4 linked regions of the Homo sapiens genome follow. The protein of the gene in region 3 interacts with the protein of the main gene of each other region in a biochemical or structural test. Each region holds a gene or a part of one and is shown on either strand. Other genes may lie near its edges.

Region 1 (3,858 bases), on a different chromosome or scaffold from region 3:
CTCCCAAAGTGTTGGGATTACAGGTGTGAGCCATCACACCCAGCCCCTGCTATTTCAAGAGCCACAGAGAGCCTGTGAACAGTCCAGTAAGTACCATATAAATTTCAGACACTATTAAGAGCACAGTCAGTTCCACCTTAGACTCCATCCAAGAGTATTTTATTATTTGTATAGTTAAAAGCAGTTAGCCAGTGTGTGGTGGCTCACGCCTGTAATCCCAGCACTTTGGGAGGCTGAGGTGGACGGATCACAAGGTCAGGAGATTGAGACCATCCTGGCTAACACGGTGAAACCCTGTCTCTCTACTAAAAATACAAAAAATTAGCCAGGTGTGGTGGCACACGCCTGTAGTCCCAGCCACTCGGGAGGCTGAGGCAGGAGAATGGTGTAAACCCGGGAGGCGGAGCTTGCAGTGAGCCAAGATCACGTCACTGCCTGAAACAGTTAAGACTCTATCTCAAAAAAAAAAAAAAAAAAAAAAAAAAAAAGCCAGGCGTGTGGTGGCTCACGCCTGTAATCCCAACACTGGGAGGCCGAGGCGGGAGGATCACTTGAGGTCAGGAGTTCAAGACCAACCTGGCCAACATGACAAAAAACCCTGTCACTACTAAAAATACAAAAGTTAGCCAGGTGTGGTGGCGTGCGCCTGTAGGCCCAGCTACTTGGGAGGCCGAGGGAAGAGAATTGCTTGAACCTGGGAGGCAGAGGTTGCAATGAGCTGAGATCACACCACTGCACTCCAGCCTGGGTGACAGAGCAAGACTCCATCTTAAAAACAAACAAAAAAAAGAAGATAGCCAAGCCCATTCATTTACGTATTGTCTATGACTGTTTTTCACTACAAAGGCATAGTTGAGTAGTTGGACAGAGACTCTATGGAAAAGCTGAAAATATTTAAAATCTGACCCTTTACTCAACAGTTTGCTGATCCCCCATCTAAATTCCTGGGTTAGGGAGGCAAAGTGTGCTTTTCAACTTCCTTGCTTCCCTGGTGAGGGGTATGTCTGTGTAGAAATTTGATAAAGATAGTTTCTATTTCCCTCCACTACTATACTGCTATAGTGACCTTGGGGCTCATTTTCTGTGTTAGTATCTGCAGAGATATTCATAAATTTGACACCAAATCAATCTCACCAGCCATAACCCTGACACAAATTCCAAGTCCTCTGCCCTATATTCTCAAACTCATTTATTCATCAAACTCCCCTGAAAATTACACATTAGTTCCACTGAAGAGATAAATACATGTTGCTCCATGTCAGATATCTTAGCCTTTCCATTAGACCCCACTGTCTAAAGAAATATGAAGCATATTCATCAGAAAATTTATTGCTTCCCAATTATTTGTTCTTTGAGCAAGGTTGAAAATAGCACCCTCCCCCAACTTCCCTTTAAAATATAAAGTGTTGCCCAGGCGCAGTGGCTCATGCCTGCAATCCTAGCACTTTGGAAGGCCGAGGCAGGTGGATCATGAGGTCAGGAGTTTGAGACCAACCTGGCCAACATGACAAAACCCTGTCACTATTAAAATACAAAAATTAGCCAGGTGTGGTGGCGTGTGCCTGTAGGCCCAGCTACTTGGGAGGCTGAGGCAAGAGAATTGCTTGAACCCGGGAGGCGGAGGTTGCAGTGAGCTGAGATCATGCCACTGCACTCCAGCCTGGGCGACAGACAGAGATTCCGTCTCAAAAAATTAAATAGATAAGGCAGGTGCAGTGGCTCACGCCTGTAATCCCAGCACTTTGGGAGGCCAAGGCGGGCGGATCAAGAGGTCAGGAGATCGAGACCATCCTGGCTAACACAGTGAAACCCCATCTCTACTAAAAATACAAAAAAATTAGCTGAGCGTGGTGGCAGGCGCCTGTAGTCCCAGCTACTCGGGAGGCTGAGGCAGGAGAATGGTGTGAACCCGGGAGGCAGAGCTTGCAGTGAGCCGAGATCGCGCCACTGCACTCCAGTCTGGGTAACAGAGTGAGACTCCGACTCAAAAATAAATAAATAAAATAAAATAAAATAAAATGCACAGGGTTTTCAAGCCCATCCAAACACCCTTGACCATGCTTCTCACTTTTTGCCTATTGTCCACTACACACTTTGAGCAGCAAAGCCCCTAACAACTAATTCGTAACTGACTTTTCTTTTCTGATGATAACGAATCTCTCAGCTCTTTTGGTTAAAAGCGTTCTCAGTTTCTACATGTATAAACCATACACAAAACATCTTTAAACCAAGTGCTAATATGTTCTAAGCTTAAAATCTCCTTATGCATGCTAAGAACCAATACAATCAACTTCTAGAAAAAGGAAGTTTCAAAGGTGCTGGTAATATTCCTTTTTTTTTTTTTTTTTTTTTTTTTGAGATGGGATCTCGTTCTGTTGCCCGAGCTAGAGTGCAGAGGCACAATCATGGCTCATTGCAGCCTCAACCTCCAAGGCTCAAGCGATCCTCCCACCTCAGCCTTCTGTGTAGCTGGGACTACAGGTGCATGCCACCACATCCGATTAATTTTTGTATTTTTGGTAGAAACAGGGTCTTGCCATGTTGTCTAAGCTGGTCTTGAACTCCTGAGCTCAAGCAATCTTCCCACCTCAGCCTCCCAAAGTCCTGGGATTACAGTCTGGGCCACCACGCCTGGCCAATGTTTTATTTATTTATTTTTTAAAGGGAGCACACAGATGATAGTTTTTTTTGGCTTGTTTTGTAAATTTTTTTGAGATAGCGTCTTGCTCTATGGCCCAGGCTGGAGTGCAGCAGTACGATCATGGCTCACTATAGCCTTGACCTCCCAGGCTCAAGTGATCCTCCCACCTCAGCCTCCCATGTAGCTGGGACTACAGGCATGAGCCACCATGCCCAGCCAATCCTTGTTTAATTTTTTGCAGAGATGGGGGTTTATGTTGCCCAGGCTGGTCTTGAACTCCTGGGCTCAAGCAATCCTCCTACCTCAGCCTCCCCACTATTTGGGACTACAGGTGCATGCCACCACACCCAGCTTACATATACTTTTTTTTTGAGACAGAGTCTCACTCTATTGCCCAGGCTGGAGTGTAGTGGTGTGATCTCAGCTCACCAAAACCTCTGCCTCCTGGGTTCAAGCTATTCTTGTGCCTAAGCCTCCCCAGTAGCTGGGATTACAGGGCCCCACTACTGCCGGGCTAATTTTGTATTTTTAACAGAGATGGGTTTCACATGCTGGCCAGGCTGGTCTTAAACTCCTGACCTCAAGTGATCTGCCTCCCTCGGCCTCCCAAAGTGCTGGGATTACAGACATGAGCCAACGTGCCCAGGCTTACTCTTTTTCCTTTTTTTTTTTTTTTTTTTTTTTTGAGACAGAGTCTTGCTCTGTTACCCAGACTGGAGTGCAATGGTGCGATCTCAACTCATTGCAACCTCCACCTCCCGGGTTCAAACAATTATCCTGCCTCAGCGTCCCAAGTAGCTGGGATTACAGGCATCTACCACCACGCCCGGCTAATTTTTGTCTTTTTAGTAGAGACAGGGTTTCACCACGTTGGCCAGGCTGGTCTCGAACTCCTGACCTCAAGTGATCCACCTGTCTTGGCTTCCCAATGTGCTGAGATTACAGGCGTGAGCCACGGCACCCTTACTCTTTTCTATGTATGAAATATTTCACAGTTAAAAAAAAAAAAAAAAAGGTAGAAAACTTAATTCCAGCTGGGCGTGGTGACTGGCTCATGCCTGTAATCCCAGCACATTAGGGGGCCGAGGCAATTGGATCACCTGAGGTCAGGAGTTTGAGACCAGCCTGGTCCAATATGGTGAAACCCCATCTCTACTAAAAATACAAAAATTAGCCGGGCATGGTGGTGGGCGCCTGTAATCGCAGCTACTCAGGAG
Region 2 (3,858 bases), on a different chromosome or scaffold from region 3:
TTGAGATCAGCTTGGGCAACATGGTGAGTCCTGGTCACCACACACACACACACACAAAAATTAGCCAGGCATGGTGGTGTGCACCTGTAGTCCCAGCTACTTGGGAGGCTAAGGCAGGAGGATGGCTTGAGCCAAGGAGTTTGAGGCTGAAGTGAACCATGATTGCTCCACTGCACTTCAGCCTGGGCAATAGAGCGAGACTCTGTCTCAAATAATAAAAGTAAATAGGCTGGGCGCAGTGGCTCACGCCTGTAATCCCAGCACTTTGGGAGGGCAAAGTGGGCGGATCACCTGAGGTCGGGAGTTCAAGACCATCCTGGGCAACATGGCGAAATCCTGTCTCTATTAAAAATAGAAAAATCAGCTGGTCATGGTTACAGGCACCTGTAATCCCAGCTACTTGGGAGGCTGAGGCAGGAGAATCGCTTGAACCCAGGAGGTGGAGGTTGCAGTGAGCGGAGATCACGCCACTGCACTCCAGCCTGAGGGATAGAGCAAGACTCTGTCTCCAAAAAATAAATAAAAATAAATAAAAGTTGTCAATAGATTACCAAAGAACTCACCAAAAAGATTGAGCTGAGCTCATTAATTCCTTGCTGTAGTGTGGGTTCTGTGGTGATTTTATTATTATAATGTAACACCAAGCCACATTGTCAGTTAGTAACTTCTCAAAATGTTGAGTCAGTGGACACCGGGTAGGGTAAAAAGTCTTTGTGCCTGGTGCGGTGGCTCATACCTGTAATCCCAGCACTTTGGGAGGCCAAGGCAGGCAGATCTGTTGAGCTTAGGAGTTTGAGACCAGCCTGGGCAGCATAGGGAGACCCCATCTCTACAAAAAAAAATGAGTAGGCTATGGTGGCTGGTGCCTGTAGTCCCCACTAAGGAGGCTGAGGTGAGAGGATCCCTTGAGCCCAGGAGGCGGAGGTTGCAGTAAACCAAGATCACGCCACTGCCCTCCAGCCTTTGCTACAGAGTGAGACCCTTTCTGAAAAATAAATAAATAAATAAAAGTGTGTTTACTCAAAGTATTGCAGATTGGATTTTATAAATATTTTTAAAATTTGCCAATTAGTATATGAAAACTCTGATTGTTTTAATTTGCATTTCTTTTCATATGTTTTAAATAGAGTAACATTTAAAATTTCTTTTGAAGGCTGGGTGCAGTGGCTCATGCCTGTAATCCCAGCACTTTGGGAGGCTGAGGTGGGAGTTTGAGACCAGCCTGGCCAACATGGCGAAACCCCATCTCTACTAAAAATGCAAAAGTTAGCCAGGCTTGGTGGCGCGCACCTGTAGTCCCAGCTACTTGGGAGGTCGAGGCAGGAGAATTGCTTGATCCTAGGAGGCGGAGGTTGCAGTGACCTGAGATCGTGACACTGCAGTCCAGCCTGGGCGACAGAGCTAGATGCTGTCTCAAAAAATAAATAAATAAATAAATAAATAAATAAATAAATAAATTTTGAGTGATTATTACATGTCGGGCTCTATCCAGAGCACTTAATGTATGTTATATATGTTGTCTAATTTAATCCTCAGTGGATCTTATAAGGTAGATATTCTCATTTTACAGATGAGAAAACTGGAGCTTGTTTCACAACTTTGCCCACAACTGTAGCTGTAAGTGTGAGGGGCCTGCCTCTAGAGACCATGAAGATTCAACACTAAGCTATACTGGACTGTTGTCATGTATTTTATTTTCTGTGAATTTTGGGAAGAAGAGAGTTAAATGGAAGAAAGAAAAAAAATCTTGCAAATACCTTTAGGATAGTAGTTTTTTTGGATACAGTAGACATTGTTTGAAATGAATGATTAAAGCTGTACTTACCTTTCTTAAAATTCACTGCTTGGGATGGGCTGGTAACAGTTTCGAGGTTACTCTCATTAGGCTTCAGTGTTAAGTACACTATACCCCATTTTCTTGGGAAGTGAACAGCAACATCTACTCTGTTAAAATCATTATACATTGTGTCTGCTTTCAGATTTCTTCCTTTTAGTAATTAGTGTTGTGTATGTGTTAGATTTTTTTTTGTCTTTACTGAAACACACCCTTTGGAATTCCTTTAGCGAATATGCTCTTTTGGGTGGATAACCTAATAAGCTTTCCTCTTTGAGTTTTCTGTTTTTTTACTCAGCACAGCCATGGAAGTAGGGATTTAATTTTCTGTCAAACTCTGCATCTCACAAAGCAATAGTTACTCAAAACACGACTTTCAAGAAGGTTATTCTTTTTAAGCTTTCAGCAGATGAGCTGAGTAGCAGCAGGAAAGCAGGTATTGAGAACTGTCTTGGTTTTTGTACTGCTGTTGAGTAGTAACATTGCAGCTGTCTTAAATCCTGAATGACACAGAAGCTTATGGCTGGTCGTACTACATAGCACCTTGAAAGTGACAGGGCTTTTCATTTCTATCTGATTTCTGTTTTTCAAAAATAAAACTCCTTATTCTTTTCCTATCATTGTAAATATTCTTCAGCTTCCTATCACTAATACATAGTCTCGGCATTAGAGACCAGTTAAAATAAATAGGCTGAGGAAAATCTTGATAGTAGGAGAGATTTTGGAGCATTCATTAAAAGTAAAAATAGGGCTGGGCGTGGTGGCTCACTCTCCCCTGTATTCCTAGCACTTTGGGAGGCCGAGGCAGGCAGATTGCTTGAGGCCAGGAGTTTGAGACCAGCCTGGGTCTTAAAAGGTAGATATTATTCTCATTTTACAGATGACGAAACTGGAGCTTGTTTGAAAAGTTTGCCCAAAATTGTAGCAGTTAGCGTGAGGGGCCTGCCTCTAGAGACCATGCAAATTCAACACTAAGCTATACTGGACTGGTCTCACATAGTGAGACCCTGTCTCTACAAAAAATAGAAAAAGTAGCCGGGCATAGTGGCCCACACCTGTAGTTCCAGCTACTTGGGAAGCTGAGGCATGAGGATTACTTGAGCCAAGGAGATCAAGGATGCAGTAAGCCATGACCATGCCACTGCACTCGTGCCTGGACAACAGTGCAAGACCCTGTCTCAAAAAAAAAGAGAAAAGAAAAAGTAAAAGTAGATACACAGGGAACTAGGCAAGTAAAAAATAGAACATTAAGCAGTTGCTAATGCTGGGAAAAATCTAAGGATTGTACAAAAAAGTATGATTGGGTCAGGCACAGCGGCCGATGCCTGTAATCCCAGCACTTGGGGAGGCCAAAGTGGGCGGATCACTTGAGGCCAGGAGTTCAAGACCAGCCTGGCCAACATGGTGAAATCCCGTCTCTACTAAAAATATAAAAAGTAGCCAGGCTTGTTGGCACATGCCTGTAGTCCCAGCTACAGGCCGAGGTAGGAGGATCGCTTGAACCTGGGAGGTGGAGGTTGCAATGAGCCGAGATCATGCCACTGCACTCTAGCCTGGGCAATCTTAGAGAACTCTATCTCAAAAAAGAAAAAAAAAAAAACACAAAAAGTATGATTGGTTTTAGTGCATTATTTAAATTATCAGTGAGTAGTATTTCATAACATACTACTGATTAAACCAGAATATGTGATATTACTGGTATAGGTCGGGGGAAACTAAATCTTCACCTTTCAGGCAATAGATAATGGCTGGAATAAACTGAGAAAGCAGTAAAAGCACATTCTTTAGAAATACTCTATCCATTTTGTGCATTGACCACAAGATTTAAAAAAAGAAAAATAAGTAAATACAAAGAGAAAGCAAAAAACAAAATCGAGAGTGATCGCCTGTGGGTGTTGGTAGGGAGCTGCTCTTTTTCATAAGCCTTTTAATACTCTGACTTTTAAAATTATGTACACGGATTAGTTTGATCAAAGTAACTACAGAGAGTGTAAGTGAAGGGCATTTAAGGATACACAAGTATA
Region 3 (3,858 bases):
TCTGCCTGGACGTTTCGGTCTGTTTCAGTCCTCCACCAGCATTGCCACCCAAGAAAAGACAGTCGGCGCCGTCCCCTACCCGAGTGGCTGTGGTGGCCCCCATGAGCCGAGCCACCAGTGGCTCCAGTTTGCCTGTTGGAATCAATAGGCAGGTAATGCAGCCCCTGTTCCCTGCATGGGAAGGCAGGGAGGGGGTGGGGGGCTCAGGGATGTGGCTCCTGAAGCTGAAAGAAACCCATGGTCTTCAGGCGCTGGTGTTTGTCACATCGAGGAGTGCGAGACCTTGTACCCATCCCTCTCTCTCCAGGACACGGTCCAAGTTCCCATATGGGGATAAGGGTCAGGGCAGGGAGGGCAGAGCCAAAGGGCGTCTCCTGGGGATAGGTGAGTCCAGCCCCAGGGCCCTCCCTGGCCACACCCCCCACAAACTCCAGATGGCTGCTTCTCAGCTGTATGTGTCCTTCGACTACTGACGTCAGAGGTGGTTTCTGAGTTCGCCTGGCAGTATTTCCTTCTCTAAGTAAATGCACCGGTTGCCTCACCCCTGGTCTGTGCCACCGTTTCTCAGAAGTGATTTGGCTTTGTTTTTCTTTTTCCACTTGAGGATTTTGATGTTGACTGTTACGCACAGAGGCGACTGTCAGGAGGCAGCCACTCATATGGTGGAGAGTCGCCCCGCCTCTCCCCCTGCAGCAGCATAGGCAAGCTCAGCAAGTCAGACGAGCAGCTGTCCTCTCTGGACAGGGACAGTGGGCAGTGCTCCCGGAACACAAGCTGTGAAACACTAGGTGAGCCGCCACCATCCTCCTGTTCCATCGTGTCTCGGTGGCTTCTCTGGGGCCATTACAGTCCTGGGTGGGAGTCCCAGGTCATGCAATCATTGACTACGTGGCTTTGGCTGACTTGTTTAAAATCTGAGCCTCAGCTTCCTCATCTGCAAAATATGGATAACAGTATCTGCCTCCCAAGGAAGTTGAGCATGTAAATGAAATCACAATGTAAAACCACAGCCTAGATATTCAAGCGGTGACTGTTAGTTCATCTGTCAGTGAGTAATTTGACTCTCTTTACCAAAATTAAGAGCCATTTGTGTTGAGAGCTTTAAACAAAGGGGTGGGGGTCCTGACAACACTTGACAGAGGCTGAAGGGGAGGGAGCCGCGCGAGCCGGCCTTCTCGTTAGTCAGTGCTGAATGTGTACTGTGCGGGCCCCTCCGAGTCTGCTGGGCAGGGGGCTTAGAGAGCAGGAAGCTGTTCGTATCCTGTGAACTAGATATTTTCACTTCTGAGAATGTATCCTAGGAGCATAATCAGTGATTAATAGCAAGATTTTCATTGGTAGGAAATCAGATGAATTATGGTACATTCATTTGCTGGAATAATCTGTAGCTATTAAAAATCACTCATATTGATAACTAGAAAAAGTACAGGACCATTTACATAGTATTCTCAATTGTTTCTTTTTTTTTTTTTTTTTTTTTTTTTTTTGAGACAGAGCCTCACTCTGTCACCCAGGCTGGAGTGTAGTGACATGATCTGGGCTCACTGCAACCTCCGCCTCCCGGGTTCAAGTGATTCTCCTGCCTCAGCCTCCCAAGCAGCTGGGATTACAGGTGTGTGCCACCACGCCCGGCTAATTTTTTTGTCTTTTTAGTAGAGACGGGATTTCACCATGTTGACCAGGCTGGTCTTGAACTCTAGGTGATCTGCCCACCTCAGCCTCCCAAAGTGGGCCAGCGTGCCCAGCCAATTTTTGTATTTTTAGTAGAGACGGGGTTTTGCCACATTGGCCAGGCTGGTATTGAACTCCTGGCCTCAACTGATCGGCCCGCCTCGGCCTCACAGAGTGCTGGGATTACAGGCGTGAGCCACCGCGTGGCCCTCAGTTAGGCTTTTTCAAAAAGGAATTGTATAGGCAAAAAAGTCATTTAAGGAAATACTTCAAAATGTAAATAGAAAGTACAGTTAGATTATGGTACTGTGGGTGATTTTTATTTTCTTGATGTAATTTGCCACAGTTTCCGTAATGGTTGTGTATTTTTTTTTTAAATAAGAAATGTAAAAAATAAAAGTATAGCAAACAGCCATATTCCCATCTGGTTTGCTTTTATAATCAGGGAGAAGAATGAAGAATATAACATGTGAATATAAAATAAGCCCTGGAGACAGGTCTTTGTCACACACCCATGAGCGAGCCGGCGAGAGGCGGGCGGGGGGAGCTGGCTGCTCCTGCAGGGCCTGTGGCTAACGGGTCTCTTTTTCCCCTGTTGTAACTGCAGACCACTATGATCCCGACTATGAATTCCTCCAGCAAGACCTCTCTAACGCAGACCAGATACCTCAGCAGACGGCCTGGAACCTTAGCCCGTTGCCAGAGTCTTTGGGGGAGTCTGGGTCTCCATTTCTTGGCCCTCCTTTCCAGCTGCCTCTTGGCGGCCATCCCCAGCCAGACGGACCTCTGGCCCCAGGGCAGCAGACAGATACGCCACCTGCTCTCCCCGAGAAGAAGCGCAGGAGCGCAGCCTCCCAGACGGCGGACGGCTCTGGCTGCAGGGTGTCCTACGAGCGGCATCCCTCGCAGTATGACAACATCTCTGGGGAGGACCTGCAGAGCACAGCCCCGATCCCATCCGTCCCCTACGCGCCCTTTGCTGCTATTCTGCCCTTTCAGCATGGAGGTTCCTCAGCCCCTGTCGAATTTGTGGGTGATTTTACTGCTCCTGAGTCAACCGGTGACCCAGAAAAACCACCTCCTCTACCAGAGAAGAAAAACAAACACAGTAAGCCTTTGTTGCACTGTTGTCAGGAAGTGCATTTTATAACCTGAAATGGCAGTATGTTTTATTTCAGCATTAGACCAGAATCAAATCAGTGGCCTCATTATTTCATAAAAGATAGGCCAGCCAGGTATGTGGACACTTCTGGGAGCCAGGTTTTGTCATTACACGTGATCATTTTTAAAGCCTCATCAGCTGACCTCTCCTTTACAGTTTCTATACAATCTCAGGTCCGGTCTCCATGTAGCCTGAGGGATTCTCCTCTTTAGATGGCAGCAGTTGACCTTCTGGCCTGATCACAGTGACAGAGGGGAACGAGTGTCCTGGCACGCAGGACAGCATTGCAGCAACATCTGTGTAGAGCGAGGTGGATACGTGAATTTCAGCAGAACTTGCCTAGTTTCCACAGAGTGATTGTCTAAGGATCCCTGTCTAGAGCACACTGTCTCTGTTCATGCTCCCAGAATGACTTGGAAGCTGGGGTTGCCCAGCAGGAGTAATTCAGCACACTTCTTGGACCAGACATTTTAATATATGATGTTATTGGAGCCCAGGGTTGGAGCTGAAGTTTTGAATATTTTCCAACGGTAAATCTGTCATAAAAGTAATAAGGAGAGTTCTCCTGGAAATTCGGTTTTCTCCTAGCTCCCCTAACTGCTCCACACTTCTGGGACTTGCCTGGCCCCCTCTGTCCCCGCCCTCTCCCTGCTTCACTAGCATAGTTCTGCTTCGATTTTCTTGGCAGCACAGCTGTCACCGTTTCAATGTGTGTGGTCACATTAGCCACACAGCCCCAGGCTTCCCTGGCCTCAGTTGACACATCCAGCAGAGAACTTCTATGACCTAGAAATGGAATCTCTACTCCAAATTCCCAAATGAGAGCTTCTGAGCCCAGCTTAGAGCTGGGCCCCATTCTCAAAGAAGGGAAGACCTGGCTTGGTTCAGTCCAGCAAGGGTCGCCCTGAGGGCTGGCTGCGTGGTCCACAGAAGGCGGCGGCTGCGATGATGTCATGTATCCCCAGCTCCTCAGTGGGTGTTGCCCAGCTTGTGTGATGGCCTCAGCAGTGTGGTCCCCCAGCTAG
Region 4 (3,858 bases), on a different chromosome or scaffold from region 3:
CTGCATGCTGGGCACTTTTACACTCATCAACTTGCTCAGTGCTCACCACCACCCTATGAGGTAGAACCCTTGCCACCCTTTCTCAGAGATGGCCTTGGATTGTGAATGAACACAGGTCTTCTGAGACCCCTCCCTCGGGACCCTGTGGCCATCTTGAATATGTACATTGATCACGTAAGTGAAGCATACAAGGTGCTCAACGCGCATGGATTGGAAATCACAAGACTCACAGCTGCAGATCAGTGGGTGCCCAGAGAGGTAGAGTGAGCTGCCCTACCTCACACAGTGCTGCTCTTCCCAGAACATCTTTATGCTGACCAAAACACACGAAATGTGATATAATTTTATGTCATATATGTCACACAAGATGCCCGTTTAATTTCCCAGAACTGTAATACACATTTATCTCAAAGAGAGATGCTGGTTTCAGTTTTAAATGCATGCAAGTACATTATAAATCTGTGCTTAATTATGATAATTTTTCAAATTAATGATCCAGCACTCCAAGAGTCTGAATGTGTTCCTTATTTTATTTCCAAAAGACAAACAAAGCAAAACCGCTCAAGTCTTGAGGTGGCAAATCTTTCCCAGTTCCCACCAGAAGAGGTAAATCCTTGTAAATAAAAGGAATCTTTTTTCATTTTTAAAAGTAACTCATCTAAGCCTAGGAGTTTGGGGTTTTTTTCCTTAAACCACAAATACATGTTTATTTTAACAAGATAAGTATAACTGAGTTCTAACTGCTTTAGAAGAAAATGGCAATTGTGCAGAGATGAGAAAAGCAAGCACTTCCTTATGTGGTTGTCACAGCCTGCCTTCTCAGCAAATGTGTGTGCACATTTTGAGAAAAGAAATGAAACATTTCTTCCACTTTTACAATTATGTTTTGACTCTACTTGGAGTAAATGTGTTTTGTTTAAGCATCCTTAAATTAATTCAATACAGCAGCAAAGTCTGCAAGCTCTACCTCCAAAATGTCCCCCAAACCTGTCCAATGCTTACCTCCTCTCTGCCCCCACACTACCCTGGGCCACCATCATCTCATACCTGAACAATTTTGGCAGATTTCTCACAGGGTTCCCTCCCCTGCTCCCCACTGTCCACGCCTCACTCAGCCACCGGTGGGATTATTTAAAGTGCAAATTGAATCCCATCATTCTCCTGCCAGAAACTTTCCATCATCCTTAGAATAAAATCCAAAGTCCTTACTGGCCCTACAGGATATGGTGGCCTTGTCACAACCACCCTCTTCCCTGCCCATGAGCTTCAGCTACACTCTCCTGCTTTCAGTGCCTCCAACTTCTCTCTAAGCACATGCCAGCCTCAGGGCCTTTGCATTTGCTGTTCCCTCTGCCTGGAACACTCTTCCCTCAGAGTGTCCCCTCACTGGCTCCTTTGTGTCATTTAGACCGCAGGTTCTGTATCCCTTTCTCTGACAGGCCTTCCCCAAATGCCCTGCCTAAAAGAGCCAGACCTGTTGTTCCCCACAGCATCCTCTCTTATTGTCCTCACACTTTTCATTAACTCAATTTGCCCTGTTATTTATTTGTTGGCCTGTTTATTGTCTCTGTCTCCCATTCGGCTGCAGTTGAGGTCCTGAGGGCGTGAACTTGCTTCTCTTCTTCACAGTTTAGAAAAGTGCCCAGTAAATCTTGGCTGTGTAAATGGATGAATGAATTACCAAACAACTCAGAGAGAGACAGAGAGAAAGAGAGGAGGAAGAGGAAGAGGAAGAAGACGAAGAAAGAGGAGGAGGAGGGAGGACAGAGGAGGGGGAAGGAGGAGGAGGGGAAGGAGGAGGAGGGGGAAGGAAGAGGAGGGGGAGCAGGAAGGAAGGGAGGGAGGGAGGGAGGGAAGGAGTTATAAGCAATTTATAAATTGATACCAGTAATACGGTGCCTTGACAAACTAGATTGTTTGAGCCATGTTATGTGACCTCATCTTGTTATTTAATATAAAAATGGCAATTTATCATCTGATAATACTGCAGTTTTTCTGTAGTGTTTGCTCTGAGCCTGACACTGCACTGAGTATTTCCCCACTGTAGGTCATATTATTGTCCCCATTTTGCCGATGAAGACCTGAGAGGTGGGTAGGGGCAGGAAAGTGGTCAGTGAGGTGCTGGTGGGGTGGAGGGGCCAAGGATCAGCTGAGGCTTTCTGACCTGAGAGCTGGCAGTGCCCACCCAACAGCTCTACCTGTTACATTTCTGTTATCCTCATGCCATCCTCTGAATAAACATCCATCACGCTGGTCCTTGGTACCCACGACAATGACAGCTTGTCAGCCCTGGGCCAGTGCTGTGGCACGTGGACATGGGGAAGCCCAGAGGTGGCAAGGATGGAGTGGGTTCCATGTGGGGAGGATAAGGGTGCATGGAGCTGGCAGGGGAGTTAAGACCGGGAAGGCCAGTGGGAGCCAGCCCGGGGGCAGGGGACCTGGAATGCCAGCATCAGAAGACTTCCCCGCATGAGGCTCTTGGTAACTGGGGCTCACCTCCCTTCTGTCTGCTGCAGGATGGGGTGCATGAAGTCCAAGTTCCTCCAGGTCGGAGGCAATACATTCTCAAAAACTGAAACCAGCGCCAGCCCACACTGTCCTGTGTACGTGCCGGATCCCACATCCACCATCAAGCCGGTGAGTAGGGGAGGTCCCAGTTTCCCTGGGGGCTGACGGATGCTGCCCCAACATTGCCCTAACAGCCTCCTGTCTTCCCAAGGTTGGGCAGGGTGAGCTTGGGGTGAAAGGGAGCTGACTGGCCACCAACAGTGTCCTGACTCGACTCTCCGGGACGCAGCGCCAGCCAGCATGCATAGGGGCAAAGAAGTCATCTCTCTTTCCTGCAGCCCAGGCTTGGCCCCTCAGCCTGAGCTCCACCAAACAGGTGTGAGTGAGCATCTCAGGCCTCCGGCCTGGGCAGAAGCAAAAGCAGTGCTGAGAAACGAGTGAACAGTAATGATAGCAGCTGAAGTGACAATGTAATGGTAGTATCAGCAGCATTGCAAAAATACAGTAACAATTGTCATACTAATAGTACCAACCATAATTGCGTGAGTATAAGACCAAGAGTAGCAGCAGGAACAACAGCAAGAGTTGTAAAAAGAGAAGCAGTCATGCTAGGAGAGGTATTTACCAACTTCTTTTATGTTTATACAAAGCTGACTATGAACCCAGCACTGTTGTAAGCCTTTACGGTTATTAACACCCTAATCCTCACAATAATCCTATTGTGTGACACACAAATACATTCTTCTTGAAAATAAAAACACAGGCCAGGTGCAGTGGCTCACACTTGTACTCCCAGCATTTTGGGAGGCTGAGGCAGGAGGATTACTTGAGCCCAGGAGTTCGAACTGCATGAGCTATGATCACGCCACTGCACTCCAGCCTGGGCAATACAGGGAGACCCTGTCTCTTTAAAAAAAAAAAAAAAAAAAAAAAAAAAGAGCTGCTTAGAATGCCATAGTTTAGGTGTCACTTCCCCCTTGCATGGACACTTAGATTGTTTCACATACATAACAGAGCCTTTATTTATGGAATATAAATCACTGGTGGGCCTGTGATTTCTCCAAACTTAGTCGGAAAACACTGATCTGGACCGACCCCTTCACTGTGTGTTGAGGGGAGGGGTCAAGCAGCATCCCCCGGTACATCCAAGACCGAAGGCCGAGGTCACAGCTCAAGAAACCTGGATCCTGGCTGGGCACAGTGGCTCACTCCTGTAATCCCAGCACTTTGGGAGGTCAGGAGTTCTAGACCAGCCGGGCCAACATGGTGAAACCCCATCTCTACTAAAAATACAAAATTAGCCAGGCATGGTGGCATGCGCCTGTAATCCCAGCTACTTGGGAGGCTGAG

The links. Proteins that work in one complex are often made in the same cells at the same time.
Region 1: the proteins of RAPGEF1 (region 3) and CRKL form a complex in vitro, tested with the Homo sapiens proteins (one study listed by BioGRID).
Region 2: the proteins of RAPGEF1 (region 3) and GRB2 form a complex in vitro, tested with the Homo sapiens proteins (2 studies listed by BioGRID and IntAct, with this or other methods).
Region 4: the proteins of RAPGEF1 (region 3) and HCK form a complex in vitro, tested with the Homo sapiens proteins (one study listed by BioGRID).

What each region holds. Positions count from the first base shown.
Region 1 is NC_000022.11:20,927,311-20,931,168, reverse strand, and holds part of CRKL (crk-like protein), read right to left. Parts: intron 1-3,858. UniProt on the Homo sapiens protein: May mediate the transduction of intracellular signals.
Region 2 is NC_000017.11:75,395,417-75,399,274, reverse strand, and holds part of GRB2 (growth factor receptor-bound protein 2), read left to right. Parts: intron 1-3,858. UniProt on the Homo sapiens protein: Non-enzymatic adapter protein that plays a pivotal role in precisely regulated signaling cascades from cell surface receptors to cellular responses, including signaling transduction and gene expression.
Region 3 is NC_000009.12:131,624,843-131,628,700, reverse strand, and holds part of RAPGEF1 (rap guanine nucleotide exchange factor 1), read left to right. Parts: intron 1-28; coding exon 29-152; intron 153-604; coding exon 605-788; intron 789-2,278; coding exon 2,279-2,779; intron 2,780-3,858. UniProt on the Homo sapiens protein: Guanine nucleotide-releasing protein that binds to SH3 domain of CRK and GRB2/ASH. Transduces signals from CRK to activate RAS. Involved in cell branching and adhesion mediated by BCAR1-CRK-RAPGEF1 signaling and activation of RAP1.
Region 4 is NC_000020.11:32,069,146-32,073,003, forward strand, and holds part of HCK (tyrosine-protein kinase HCK), read left to right. Parts: intron 1-542; exon of another isoform or gene 543-606; intron 607-2,516; coding exon 2,517-2,637; intron 2,638-3,858. UniProt on the Homo sapiens protein: Non-receptor tyrosine-protein kinase found in hematopoietic cells that transmits signals from cell surface receptors and plays an important role in the regulation of innate immune responses, including neutrophil, monocyte, macrophage and mast cell functions, phagocytosis, cell survival and proliferation, cell adhesion and migration.